2 separate regions of the Homo sapiens genome follow, and region 2 is linked to region 1. Evidence: fine-mapped expression QTL. A gene starts in region 1. The other region holds a variant in brackets. All regions are shown on one strand. Distances are between the middles of the regions.

Region 1 (2,918 bases):
ATATTTTTATTTTTTGAGCCAGAGTTTCGCTCTTGTTGCCCATGCTGGAGTGCAATGGCGTGATCTTGGCTCACTGCAACCCCTGCCTCCTGGGTTCAAGTGATTCTCCTGCCTCAGCCTCCCAAATAACTGGGATTACAGGGATGCACCACCACACCCAGCTAATTTTGTATTTTCAGTAGAGATGGGGTTTCACCATGTTGGTCAAGCCGGTCTTGAACTCCTGACCTCAGGTGATCTACCCGCCTCGGCCTCCCAAAGTGCTGGGATTGCAGGCGTGAGCCACCACGCCCAGCCCTATTATTATTTTTGACAACAACAGCAAAGATCTGCCCATCCGACTGCAGGAATTTAATACACAGCCTTTGTCAGTGGTAGAAATTCTATCACTGTATGACTCATGAGTACATAACAATGTGCTATACCATACTTCCTCTTTGAGGGATAAAGCCCCTGCACTCTAAGGGAGGATTTCATTATGCATTTCTCTTATATCACCAGAAAATTATTTAGTGGAAGACAGTTTAATATTTGACAGCTTTGAACCATTTTTTTTTCTCTTTCAACCAGTCTTTTTACATTGTCTGCTTAAAAACAGGAAACCACATATCTCCACCCCAGCACAACCCACCATCCACCAGCACAGACCGTATCATTTTGGATCTACAGTCTTTTTCTTCCAAGCCTGGCCAGGTGCCTGCTCCTACTTTGCAGGAAACCCCTCCAGGCACTCCCGGTGCGTGTTCTCAGAGCCCTTCTGAGAATATTCAGGATTGCACTTCCTGGGCTGCAGCGCACCCTGTACCCTCCTTTTTTAAGCCTCCTCCCCTGAGTCACTGCTACCCTTCCCTCCTCTAACTTCCCCTTCTCTGCAGCCTCCTTAGCAATTTCTTATCATAAAGTTTGTTTTAAAGAAGAACTGCCCCTCTAAAAAAATAATAAACTGTCGAGGGCGGTAGCCCCGTCTAGAGGTTTCCGACTTTGCTCTGTGCCCACCTGAAGCCTCCCCAGCCCGAGGTATTTGAACTTACATTCAGTGCTTCACGTCTCTGTCCGGGGTGCCTCTGTCTCTCAACTCTGACTTCTGAGTACTGGCAGTTAGAACAGGAAGGAAGTCAATGAGAAAAAAAAATGTTTTAGACCTACTTGAAGAGGAAACCCTGGGCTGTCTCAAATCCTGTTCCTTTGCACTGCCTATCTCTTGATCAGCCAACTTGAGCAGCATTCTTGTCAATTAATGGCACATGTGCGAGCATGACAGCCCGTGTGACGTGGAGATGCATGAATGTACACGCAAGAGTGTGGAGCCTATAGCTATGGGTATTATGAATAATTGTGAGGGTATTTCTGATAATCAGGTCATTGCAGTGCATAAGCCTATGGAGGTAAGGAGCCTGAAACCAGTAGCAATAAATTCACATCGGCTTTACTTTGTACCACTCACTTCTGTTCCCACTGGGTCCCCGCCAGCTTCATTATCAACCAGATACGTTGAAAGTTTGCTGGCAGTGAATGTAGAGTGCTAAGAAATGATGATTGTTAACTGCATATACTACGGTCCTAAATTTAAAAATGTGTCCTTAAACAGATTTTTGGAGTTTTGTTGGTTATAATTTCAAGACGTAGCTTTGTATTGCACTACAAACAGTCAAATATTGTTTTTAATAGTTTTGGCTGATTTTTCTTCAAATGAAACAAACAAGCAAGCGAAAGTACTGTCTTTGATGAAACCTAGGAAAGAAATTACAAAAGGAAGTAAAACTTCATTAATTCATAGTCTTCCAACTCAGAATTTGTGACAACTTAACAAGTGCCAAAATAGACTTTGTACCATATTTGAGGAAATGGTTTATGAAGTAATTTAAATGGGAACAAGTCTCGGAGGCCATGTTTAAACCATCTGAGGAACAGTTTTTAAGCAGCCAAGTCACATTCATGCTGTATATTCCCGTAGCTGTTACCAATAATAAATGCTTATTTAGGTTAATATTTCAATATTCAGTATTTACACTACATCAATATATTTAGATCTGACTAAGCACACAAATTTGGAGAAACTGACGTTTATTTTGTTTTCACCTAAATGTACTGCATCTTCTTCATTTCCCTTTGTAAATTGATACCACAGGGTTTGCCTTCTACTTAGAGTCAATGAAATCGGAATAATCAAGGGAGTCATTTCACGTGAGAAGAGATTAGCCTAGAAAAATATGAAAAGGAAAATAGTATATAATTAAAATGAGCAAAAATACTAAAAGCCTAATACCACTTTATTCTATAAATTTTAAAATAGCATAGACAGAATACAGCCCTTGAAACAATGTACATAACTTTATTGTAAAAACAAAGCAAACCCTAATTTACACAGAAGGCAGTAACTTACACATTCTATAGCTCTGCACCCTCAAGAGGGGATACATTTATTCATTCCATAACATTTATCGAGCACCTCTTTTCTTTCAAGTACTGTTCTAGTTCCCTTGTGCAGCAATAGACCGCAGGCGACATCTCTGCTGCCCTGTGGAACTTATGTTGTACCTAGGAGACAATTAAAATAACACAGGCAGAATACATTAATTGTAACAAGAAATATTTAAAAATGAAAAATGGTAAATGCATGGTCTCTATTCCACCACTCATTTCTCATGTTATTAGGGAACACCTCACTAGGCAAACCTGGCTTTTTTTTTCCCTCCAGAGCCCAGTGTATATCGGAGGGTATGGGAGCACCCCTTCCCAGAAAAATCTGTAAAATCAATACATATTTTACAGATTTGTATTATAGATTAATGTATTTATTGGGGGATGAGAGAGCATTCATAATTTTAGAAAGTTCTAAAAGGACTCCAATTATCAAAATATACTTAATTCCTGGTCATATGCAAGGAGCCACGGAAAGGTACAGAAATAAACAAGAC
Region 2 (2,918 bases), 93 kb before region 1:
TTCTTTTCTTTAAGAATGTGGAATATTGGCCCCTAATCTCTTCTGGCTTGTAGGGTTTCTACTGAGAGGTCTGCTGTTAGTCTGATGGGCTTCCTTTCGTTAGGTGACCAAGCCTTTCTGTCTGGCTGCCCTTAACATTTTTTTCTTTCATTTTGACCTTGGAGAATCTGATGATTATGTGTCTTGGGGATTATCTTGTAAAGTATCTTACCAGGGTTATCTGCATTTCCTGAATTTGAATGTTGGCCTGTGTAGCTAGATTGCAGAAGTTCTCTGGGATGATACCCTGAAGTATGTTTTCCAAATTGATTCCAGCCTCTGCATCTCTTTTTGGTACCCAAATCTGTCATAGATTTAGTCTCTTTACGTAATCCCATATTGGAGGTTTCGTTCATTCCTTTTTCACTATTCTTGTCTGTCTGTAATTTCAGAAAGACAGTCTTCAAGCTCTGAGATTCTTTCCTCTGCTTGGTCTATTCTGCTATTAATACTTTGAATTGCATTGTGAAGTTCTTGTAGTGTGTTTTTTGGCTTTATAAGGTCGATTATGTTTCTCTCTATACTGGTTATTTTGGCTGTCTACTCCTGCATTGTTTTATCATGTTTCTTAGCTTCTTTGCATTGGGTTACAACATGCTCCTTTAGTTCAGCGAAGTTTGTTTGCTTGTTTTCATCCACATTCTGAAGACTACTTTTGTCATTTCAGCCATCTCAGCCTCAGCCCAGTTCTGAACCCTTGCTGGAGAGGTGTTGTGGTCATTTGGAGGAAAGGGGGCACTCTGGTTTTTTGAGTTTTCATTGTTTTTGCATTGATACTTTCTCATCTTTGTGGGCTTATCTACTTTTGATCTTTAAGGTTGCTCACCTTTGGATGGGTTCTTTTGTGTTTTCTTTTGTTGTTGTTATTGTTGTTTTTTCTTTGTTTGTTTTTCTTTTAACAGCCTGGCCATTCTTCTGTAGGGCTGCTGTGTTTGGCTGGGGGTCCAATCCAGACCCTAGTCACCTCGGTTTTTCTAGTACCTGAAGGTATCATCAGTGAATGCTGCAAAACAGCAAAGATGGCAGCCTGCCCCTCTCTCTGGGAGCTCTGCCCTGAGGGCTACTGACCTGTTGCTGGCCTAAACATGCCTGTACAAGGTGGCTGGAGACCCTGGTTGGGGTCACTAGGAACGAGATCAGGGACCTGCTTAAAGTATCAGTCTGGCTGCTTTTTGGTAGAGCAGCTGTGCTATGTTGAGGATCCCTTCAGCCCCCAATCCAAGGTCTGCAGGGTGGACTAGCTGAGATGCCCAAACAGCAAAGGTGGTGGCCTGCCCCATCTCGTGGGCTCCCCCATTCCAGGGAGAAATTAGAACTCTGTTGGTCATAGAACATGGGCAGGGGTGGCCTGGGGCCCCAGCTGGGAGGACCTGCCCAGCAAGGAGGAATGGATCCTGCCCCCTTTTATAGAAGCAGTCTGGCCACACCTTAACAAGACAGTCATGGAGTCCTGGGGACCCATCCCCGGCCATGTCAGCTTGGACTCACCAAAGCCCACAGGCTGGAATGGCTGAGTCACCCAAACAGCAAAGATGGTGACCTGCTCCTCCCCCTGGGCACCCAT[C/T]CCAGGGAGAAATCAGACCTCTGTCCTTAGAGCAGGGTAGCCAGAGGCCCTGACTGGGAGGACCTGCCCTGCAAGGAGGAGTGGATTGGGTTCCTGTTTGAAGAAACAGTCTGACTACACCTTGACAAAAGAGCTCTGCCATGCTGGGGAGCTGCCTCTGTGCTGGTCAACTTGCACTCTCCACACCCTGCAGGCTGGAGTGGCTTAGTTGTCCAAACAACCAAGGCGGTGGCCCACACCTCTCCCTCAGGGAGAGATCAGAACTCTGTCCATAGAAAATGGGCAGGAGTGGCCGAAGGTTCCAGATGGGAGGTCCTGCCCAGTGAGGAGGAATGTTTTGGGATACTGCTTAAAGAGGCAATCTGGGCACATTCTGGCAAAGCAGCTCTGCTGTGTTGGGGGGAATCTTTCCTTGTCCAGACCATTTGGATTTTCCAAAGCTCACAGGCTGGAATGGCTGAGTTGACCAAACAGCAGAGATGGTGGCCTGCCTCTGTCCTCCGGGTCTCTGACCCATCTCAGGCAGGCTCCACCCTGTTGCTAGTAGCTGGCTGGAATCCAAGCCAGTAGATCTTATCTTGTGAGGTACCGTGGAAGTGAGGCCCACAGACTGACACTGGCCCCCTGGATTCAGCTCCCTTCCTAGGGGTATATACAGGTCTCCTGCCTTGCTGAGGATCCCAAAGCCAGAGTAGGTAAAGCTCCTGGGTCTCTGTGTGTGCCTGAGCAGCTGCTGTGCTGAGACTCTACACAGCTCTGTGTGTCGGACCCAAGGCCCTGTGGTGTGGGCTCACAAGGGAATCTCTTGATTTGACAGTTGCAAAGATCTGTGGGAGAAGTCTGGTTTCTTGGGGTCACACAGTCACTCACTGCTTCCTGTGGCTGGGGATGGGGGTTCCCTTGGCTCTGTGTTGCTCTCAGGTGGGCTATCGCCCCACCCTGCTTTTCTATGTTCTCCATGGGTCAAGCTGTTTTCCTGATCAGCCTCACTGCGAGTACCTGGATATTTCAGTTGGAGGTGTGGTATTCACTTGCTCCTTTCTTTCCTCTTTGTGAGAGCCAGGTACCACAGCTGCTTCTAATTGGCCATCTCTGCCCTCTCCCCATCAGCTTCATTTCCGGTACATCACACAAACCATAGCAAAATAAAATGTGTAATACATGCTTGTATTAGTTTAATTACACTTAAGATTATGAGTCACAGAGACGCTTAGAAAATAATAGAAACTCCTTTCTTTCCTTTATTGTCAAACTCTTAGTTACCTATCTGCTTCTGACCACATTTAATTCACAGCTATGGTTTCGATAAGACCTA

Evidence for each region. PIP is the estimated chance that this variant, and not a neighbour inherited with it, causes the effect. A credible set is the group of variants that fine-mapping cannot tell apart.
Region 2: its variant is the best candidate, but not a certain one, in a credible set for the expression of ARHGDIB in nasal epithelium (TOPMed, PIP 0.70).

The regions. Positions count from the first base shown.
Region 1 is chr12:14,960,506-14,963,423 of GRCh38, forward strand. ARHGDIB (Rho GDP dissociation inhibitor beta) reads right to left here and starts at 1,096. Exons shown (of 6, transcript NM_001175.7): 1 at 1,032-1,096. RefSeq lists an enhancer at 799-918.
Region 2 is chr12:14,867,494-14,870,411 of GRCh38, forward strand. No RefSeq gene overlaps it. Among named protein-coding and RNA genes, the nearest start is that of MGP, 17 kb to the right of the region's middle. The variant C/T (reference allele first, on the strand shown) is at 1,604.